Regions from separate parts of the Homo sapiens genome. Here region 1 is linked to region 2. A link means that fine-mapping ties the variant in region 2 to the expression of a gene that starts in the linked region. Tissue or cell type: pituitary. Region 2 holds a variant in brackets; the other region holds the start of a gene. All regions are shown on one strand. Distances are between the middles of the regions. Region 1 holds the start of FMO3 (flavin containing dimethylaniline monoxygenase 3). Region 2 overlaps FMO1-AS1 (FMO1 antisense RNA 1).

Region 1 (4,402 bases), 33 kb before region 2:
AAGAAAACAAAAATTTCTTTAAAATACAAAGAAAATATAGAGCAAGAGAACAGAATATAAGTCTTCCACTCATATCCTCCAACAGCAACAATAATCTAGCAACCATCCAGGGATGAAAGTTTCTTCTTAGCAGTTTTGTGATTTGGAGGGGACAACAGAGTAGAGAATGCCCACTGCCCCAACCAGAGCCTGGGCATTTGAGATTCTGAAGATTTAAAAAGGGGCTCTGCAGAAAGCTGTGGCAAGCAAAGGATAGGCTAGAGAGAGACAGGACTAATAAATGTGTCGACTTCAGATACATTCTTGTGAAGGACAGCAAAGAATAGGTGGCCTTTTCACCTCCTAGAGAGATAAAACATCGGAGGCCAAGGTAGAATTGGGTGTGTCCTGCCAATCTTTAAATGAATAAGGCTATAGGAGTAGTATTGCTTCCTGAAGTAGTCACAATCTTTTCTTTGCATTATTTTAATTCTATTTATGTAGCATTAAAAACTGAAAAGAAGTTCTATGTAAAATGAGAGCAGAGAAAATCATGTTGTCTGAATTGCAGCCCTAGAAAATTTCATGAACCTATGACTTGTTTTTAATTTTTATCTACAAGTCACATTTGCTCATTTTTAACTACATGCCACATTTTATATGTACCTATGTATACATGTATTTATGTGTACATACCCTTTAATCCTCTAATCCTTGTTAAAAAAAAAATAGCCAGACAGGAATTAATAGTGTAGTTATCCCTATTTTATTAATGAGTAAATCAACGATTGGAAAGGTTAAGTGATTTGCCCAAGGCCACAGAGCTATAGAAGTGATTTGGAATCTCTCATACTCACACTTCAGAGATGAAGATTACTGTCTTCAAAAGGCATGAAGGGTAATTCCTCAAAATTAGACATATACCAGTTTACACTAAGTATCACTTGCTTAATGAAGGAGTTAACTAGACAAAATGAGTGAGATGTTATAATTCTAAGTGACATCAAAATATAGTTGATAGGAAAACTTTTTTTGAAATTCTACTATATTTCATGACTGGGAGTTAGGTGCAGTTTATTTTGTCTAACTGCCAACATAATTTTACCTGGTACTAATTTTACCTGGTTCCTGGTACTAATAGATCAATTTGTGGAATTTTGATCTTTTCTGTGACCACACACTGTACTCAGAAACAAGTAAATATAAGCTTGAGAAATACAGGCCTTTGACCCCAAAATTCCAAGACAGGACATGAAAAGAGAGAGCAGAGAAAAGTCATCCTCCTTATTGGGCTATCTCAATTAAGTAGCTAAGTTTCTACAGTATTTGGAGGACTACTATGAGCTACCCACAAAAGAACTAGGAATAAGGAAAACAAGGTAAACTTTCAAATAACACATAATAAAATGGAGTACAGAACTGCAAAGTCACCTGGGAGAAACTACTTGACTCCCAGGCCAAGGGTCCAAGAGTATAACCAGCAGCTTGTGTTTACCATAATCAAAGGAAAAGTAGAAACTGGGTGGCCATGGGAGACTGGCCTACAGTCCCATCCATCACAGAGGGTTGGCGTGTGCTCACCCATTCAAGGACCAATAAATGAGTATCTCTTTAAGAGCAGCTCCTCCCATTTTTCAACAATCTTCCTAATATGTAGGCTCACTAGAACATTTTCTCTTTCAAACTGCCCAGACGGTTGGACAGGACGTAGACACACAGAAGAAAAGAAGACAAAGAACGGGTAGGAAAATTAAAAAGGTAGGAGGCTGAGGCGGGTGGATCACCTGAGGTCAGGAGCTTGAGACCAGCCTGACCAACATGGTGAAACCAAATCTCTACCAAAGATACAAAAATTAGCCAGGCGTAGTGGTGCATGCCTGTAATCCCAGCTACTTGGGAGGCTGAGGCAGGAGAATCACTTGAATCTGGGAGGCAGAGGTTGCAGTGAGCCGAGATCACACCATTGTACTCCAACCTGGATAAAAGCGAAACTCCGTCTCAAAAAAAAAAAGAAAAGAAAAAGAATAAAAGGTGATATAGTAAAGGGTTGAGGGTGGGATGGGTAAATGAAGAAGGAGCATGCTGTAGTTTTATACCAAATATGGCTAGAATGAGAATGATATAATTCAGGCAGTTTGTTTGTTTCTGGGAATCACGGATCATGATGTTTAATCATCCAAGTCTATTTCCCTGCATAGCTATGTGATTTTGTCTAAAAAGAAAAAAAAAAGTAGTGAAAGAAGTAGTGGTAGAGCCTAAAGACAGTGTCAGGAACAGAAAAAAGTTAGGAAACGTAATTTTCTTAGAGGGGAATGGACGCTGAAGGTAGTGGGAAAAAATTGTTTTTAGGTAAGAACATGACTTCTTTCCCCAACACCCCCCGGAGAGAAGGTCTCACTCTGTCACCTAGGCTACAGTGCAGTGCTGTAACCATAGCTCACTGCAGCCTCAAACTCCTGGGCTCAAGCGATACCCCAGCTCAACAGGACTATATAATCCCAGAGTAGCTGGGACTATAGGTATGCACCATTTACTTGTCTTTTTAATTGAGAAGGTGAAGTACATTATTGATGGGGAGAAGGGGTGACTACCTGGCACACTGAAATACAGACATCTTCAGACCTTGTTCCTCATTATCCGTATCTAAGTAAAAAGAAGATACAGATTGCGTGTGTGTGTGTGTGTGTGTATGACTGTGTGTGTGTATACATATACATATGTGTTTCTTCATTCCCATATACAGGCATATGTATGTGGGTGGGTGGGTGGATGTGTCTACAGGTGTTTTAGTTGCGAATCTTTATTTCTTCTGCTTACTCTTTTTGGTAGACAGTAAATGACAAAGTCCAAAAGCAAAAAAGATAAATATGTATGCTGGGTCATCAGTCTCTTAATTTTGGAGAGCTGATGACTAAAAACAAAGTGCTTATTTTTTTTTCAGAAGAAAACTTTCTCTTTAGAAATTAGAGAGAAATGAAAATGTAGTTAGATCACTAAAAGGAATTTGTTTTCTAGAGACAAGGTCTTACTCTGTCACCCAGGCTGGAGTGCAGTGGTACAATCACGGCTCACTGCAGCCTGGAACTCCTGAACTCAAGTGATCCTACCGCCTCAGCCTCCTGAGTAGCTGGGAGTACAGGCATGTGCCACCACACCCAGCTGATTTTGTTTGTTTTTTGTTTTGTTTTGTGGAGACAGGGTCTCACTCTGTTGTCCAGGCTGCTTTCAAACTCCTGGGCTCAAGTGATCCTCCCACCTCAGCCTCCCAAAGTGCTGGGATTACAGGCGTGAGCTACCATACTCAGCCAGTGTTTATTAAAAAGTAAAGTTTTTATTAAGCCAAAGAGCGAAATCAAAATAAATAGATAAATAAGTAAATACATTTTCAGCAATGTTGTTACTGGAAATGTTCTCTGGGCCTTTGCACAGGTTACCATGGGGAAGAAAGTGGCCATCATTGGAGCTGGTGTGAGTGGCTTGGCCTCCATCAGGAGCTGTCTGGAAGAGGGGCTGGAGCCCACCTGCTTTGAGAAGAGCAATGACATTGGGGGCCTGTGGAAATTTTCAGTGAGTAGCATGTTGTTGTAATAGACAGGAAAATAGGTTGGGAAGTGTATAAGAGCACACTGTGTGCACACAGGTTTCCAAACCTGCTACCATGGCAGTTATCATATCTGTTAGAATTGGAATCCACTAAGTACAGTGTCAAGAGCAGGTTGGAAAGTAACCTCCTTGCAAGTCAGAAGTAAATTAGACAATGGGCTTTGAAATTCTCCATTACAGTTCTCCCTTGATAGATCATTAATAAGAGCCACTTGGACATAAAATTAGTGGTAAATATTAGTTAGGTTTATGTAGTTATAATTATTTACTCATTTAAAACACAATAACTTTTCACATCTTTTTTTTTTTTTACAGATTTAGGGGGTACAAGTGCAGTTTTATTACATGGATATAATGTATAGCAGTTAAGTCTGGGCTTTTGTGTAGCCATGACCCAAATAATGTACATTGCACCCATTAAGTAATTTCTCATACCTCAACCGCCTCCCACTCTCCTACCCTTCCAAGTCTCCAATGTCTATTATTCCCACATTCTATGTCAATGTGTATACATTATGTAGCTCCCAATCGTAAGTGAGAGAATATGTGGTATTTCACTTTCTGTTTCTGAGTTATTTCACTTAAGATAATGGCCTCCAGTCCCATCCATGTTGCTGCAGAAGACATAATTTCATTCTGTATTCTCGCTGGGTAGTATTCCATGGTGTGTGCATATATACATACATATATATGTATATGCGTCTGTGTGTATATATACATATATGTATGTATATACCACATTTTCTTTATCCAATCATCCTTATTGGACAACAAGGTTGATTCCATTTCTTTGCTATTGTGAATGGTGCTGCGATAAACA
Region 2 (4,402 bases):
TGGAGATCAGAATAAGGCTCCAATAAGTCAAGTCATAGAGCATGGGTATATTCTCTAAGAAAGGTCCTCCAAGGAGCATATGACAACATACGACTAAACATGCAAGGAATTGATCAGGAGAATACCTGTGAAAGATAATAGGAAAGGAGCTGGAAAAGACAGGGAGAGCTGTCAGACAGGGATGCAAGTATGACCCCAAGCGAAGAAGTGAGGGGAGGAGAGTTGGGTGAAAACATTCCAGACTGCCAAGCAGTCTAGGAATGGTTTGGCAAAGCTGCAGGGGAATGCCTGAACAAAGTTGGGCATCAGAAGAGCCCTGTGTCTATAAGGCAGAGGCCTGCCTAGGTATCTCTGCCATACTCAGTCATTGGCTGGGAATAGCCTGAACAAGTACAGCCTCAGTTCAAAGACAGCATTCAATGAGCAGCTTGGGTCCATTGGTCAATTATGCTCCCTGTAGTTTGGGTCCATTGGTCAATTATGCTCCCTGTAGTTGGAGATCTGCAACTTCTCATGACCACCAGAAGGAGCCAGCCCAGTAGGATTTACCAAAGGATTGGTGAGGGAACAGGTGCAGAGTTTATACCAGATACCAATATTACCAAAGGAAAACTAATTCCAGGCCCTGCAGCTGACAATTGTTCACCTTTCGCCTTAGTTTGGATTGGCTTAGTGATCAGGAACAGCAAACTCAGCAGACTGAAATTTCTCTGTGTTTAGGTGAAAATGTGCTTCTGTGTGAAGGCACAACTGGCAATTATTAAATCTCCTCTCCCAAGCTTGAGTAAATTAAAGAGGGGCTCTGAGCTATGAATTTCAGCTCAGAGCCTTCAAAGATAAATGTTAAACTTTTGAAAATTTTCCAGCAAGATAATGGCAAATGGTTATCTAAATTTCACTGTGTAATTTGCATCCTGTCAGATAACACAACTCCTGTCAGTGTTTTATGTTGTTCCCCCAGCCTGTTTTCAAGCAGTTTTCTTCCTGTGGAACATAAAACAGACAAATAATAGTGGGGGTCACATGATCTGCTTATTTTTAGACTGCTGCTCTACTGCAAATAGCTTTCCAGTGCCACTGTGTCTCAGCCCATATGTCCTGCTATAAAGGAATATCTGAGGCTGGATAATTTATAAAGAAAAAAGGTTTCTTTGGCTCATGGTTCTGCAGGCTGTACAAAAGCATTGCACTAGTATCTGCTTCTGATGAGGGCCTCAGGCTGCTTCCACTCATGATGGAAGGGAAAGGGGAACTGATGTGTGCAGAAATTACATGGTAAGGCAGGAAGCAGTAGAGAGAGGAGGAGGCATCAGACTCTTTTTAACAACCAATTCTCACAGAACTAAGAGTGAGAACTCACTCCTGTGAGGATGACACCAAGCAGTTCATGAGAGGTCCACCCTCAAGATCCAAATACCTCCCACCAGGACCCACCTCCAACATTGGGATCAAATGTCAACCTGAGACTTGATAGGGCCAAGCAAAGTATATCCAAATCACAGCACAGTTTTTCAGCTCCAGAATAATTATCATGTTTTCCAGGGCAAAAGTTTCCATAAAAATGATAATAGTAAAGGGCAAACAGAATTCATGCTTTCTACCAACAGTTTTTGTACTAGTTATGTACTAGGGTATATTCTAGGACCTGGAGATTTAACAGGAAATTATATTAAAATAATCCCACTTTTAAGAAAGTCACATTCTATCAGGGGAAAACAGTCTATTTAAAAATACACGGGCCAAACACAGTGGCTCACGCCTATAATCCCAGCACTTTGGGAGGCCGAGGCAGGTGGATGACGAGGTCAAGAGATCAAGACCATCCTGGCCAACATGGTGAAACCTTGCCTCTACTAAAAATACAAAAAATAGCCAG[A/G]TGTGGTGGCGGGCACCTGTAGTCCCAGCTATTCAGTTGGCTGAGGCAGGAGAATTGCTTGAACACGGGAGGCAGAGGTTGCAGTGAGCTGAGATCGTGCCACTGCACTCCAGCCTGGTGACAGAGCAAGACTCCGTCTCAAAAAAAAATTAAAATTAAAATTAATAGAGAACATATCATGACATAGAATAATAGAAAACAAATGGCCTTAAAAGTTGTCTAGTCCAGTCCTCTAGTTGCAAACCAAAGCAACCCAGGAAACATGTGAGGCCAGTGGTTACCAACTCCCTTTGAGTCCCAGGTGTACTTTTTCTTAAGCTACTGAAACTATATTGCTTACAGTGTATCAGCCCCAAACCTGATGGATTTCTAGTCAATTTATCAATATTCTGAAGTTCTATATTTCCCTAATCTCTAGTGCAGAAATCCAGCTGCAATTCCTTCTATTTTATCCCAGTAAGATCTCATTCTAAATCAGCAGAATGCTCCTTTTTGGCATCTTCAATGCTTGTTCCCACCCCACTGTGCCTTCGACCAATTCATTTCATCATTTCTTCTCTCTCTCTCTCATTTTTATGCTACCCATACCCAGACTCAATATTTCAGCCTCATTCTCTCTTCCCCTGGCTTGAATCCCCACTTGCAATCTAAGGATAGGTTCTATAAAGTCTACTTTCTCTATCTCTTTTGCCTCTTTCCATCTTATAATTCCCACTCTGGCAAATTAGATCTGGCTATCATTATTTTTTTTAATTTTGATATAGTATTATTTGTCTATTTTGCTTTTGCTGCCTGGTTTGTTTTTTAATTTTTTGTTCATGTTTTGTTTCGGTTTTTTTAGAGGCAGGTTTTTGTTATGTTGTCCAGGCTGGCCTGGAACTCCTGGGCTCAAGCAGTCCTCCCATCTGAGCCTCCCGAGTACATGGAACATACCACCCCACTCCCAGCTATCATAATTTCTTAGTCTGTTGGAATAGGCCTCTAACTGGCCAGCTAGACTTTAGTTTCCCTGTCATAGTTTATCCTGTATACTACTGCCAGAATCATCTTCCTGAAGTGAGCCTCTAAAACACATTACACGTGCATACAATTCTTTACTGGTTCTTCTTTCTCCCCATTTAAATCTCATACAAGGGGCCTCCCAATATGACTAAAGCTACTTTTCCAGTCTTATTTGTAACTATGTTCCAGACAAACTATACTATTTAGAGTTTTCTCCCTGAATAAACCCACCTTCATGTATATATTTATGGTTATACATGAAATATATATATAACCATAGAAAAATGCCTGAAATCCAGGCGTTTTTTAAACCCGTCTTAAATCTAAATTCTTTCCTTTGGGGTCAGACTTTGTACCTGTTCCCAGAAGCATGCTGAGATCTAACTCTAGTCATGAATCTAATGGCAGCAAAGGCTGGATTGGGGTACTTCTTGAGAATAGCCATCCTTTTGCAAAGCAATTGCCACCAGTGAGGTTATTACAGGATTTTTAAACATCCTCAGACTTGGGATGGTGGGCTGCTTCCACTAGAAAGAGAAGCTCAAAGTGATTCGAAGGTTTGAGATTCTCAGCTTCATTAAAAGACTTGCTGAGGCTGGGTATTCAGCATAAGTTGTCATTCTGAAACCTGCAAAATTAAAATTTGTTCTGATTTTCAGACAAGTTGAACCTTTGTTGCAAGAAATAATATTATTTTAAATCCACCACAGGAGCACTCTGGCTGTCTGGCATGACTTGAGCCGAGAGTTGAAAAACCTGTGCCTGTCATCTTCTTTCTTAAGTGCTTCAGTGCACTCAGAAGTTACCATCCCTACCCTTGATCTTGTGGTCATTATTGCCATCATGCAGGTAAATGTAGCAGCCACTTGTCGTCTGCCCCACCCCCACCCTGCCCCACCAAGGGACTTGCTTCAGTAGGTACTTCCTCACAATCAAATAGAGGTGATAATGTGGTTAATTGTGATGCCATTGCTTGCATGGATTACTGTATCACGATTCTCAATTTTTAAGGAGGTCAGCACTGCATTCAAGTCCAAGGACATGACCAAACCAATCCCAATATCTTATTTTTAAGTGTCCATTTTCTTGGACCATTCCTGGCACCAACTTCTGTATCAGTTAGGGTGCTTTCAGGAAAGAGAAACCTTAACAATAGTTTCAACATAGAGAATATTGATATAGTTTTGCTGTGTCCCCACCCAAATCTCATCTTGAATTCCCACGTGTTGTGGGCAGGACCCAGCGGGAGGTAATTGAATCATGGAAGCAGGTCTTTCCTGTGCTGTTCTCGTGATAGTGAATAAGTCTCATGAGATCTGATGGTTTTAAAGAGGGGAGCTTCCCTGCACAAGCTCTCTTCTCTTGTCTGCTGCCATGAGAGATGTGCCTTTCACCTTCTGCCATGATTTTGAGGCCTTCCCAGACACGTGGAACTATAAGTCCAATAAATTTCTTTCTTTTGTAAATTGCCCAGTCTCTGGTATGTCTTTATCAGCAGTGTGAAAATGGACTAATACAAATATA

What was found. PIP is the estimated chance that this variant, and not a neighbour inherited with it, causes the effect.
Region 1: FMO3 starts here. The variant in region 2 is the best candidate, but not a certain one, in a credible set for the expression of FMO3 in pituitary (GTEx, PIP 0.55).

What each region holds. Positions count from the first base shown.
Region 1 is chr1:171,089,245-171,093,646 of GRCh38, forward strand. FMO3 (flavin containing dimethylaniline monoxygenase 3) reads left to right here and starts at 1,661. Exons shown (of 9, transcript NM_001002294.3): 1 at 1,661-1,737; 2 at 3,409-3,546. The coding sequence starts at 3,415.
Region 2 is chr1:171,122,079-171,126,480 of GRCh38, forward strand. All of the region lies in intron 3 of FMO1-AS1 (FMO1 antisense RNA 1), which reads right to left. Among named protein-coding and RNA genes, the nearest start is that of MIR1295A, 22 kb to the left of the region's middle. The variant A/G (reference allele first, on the strand shown) is at 1,877.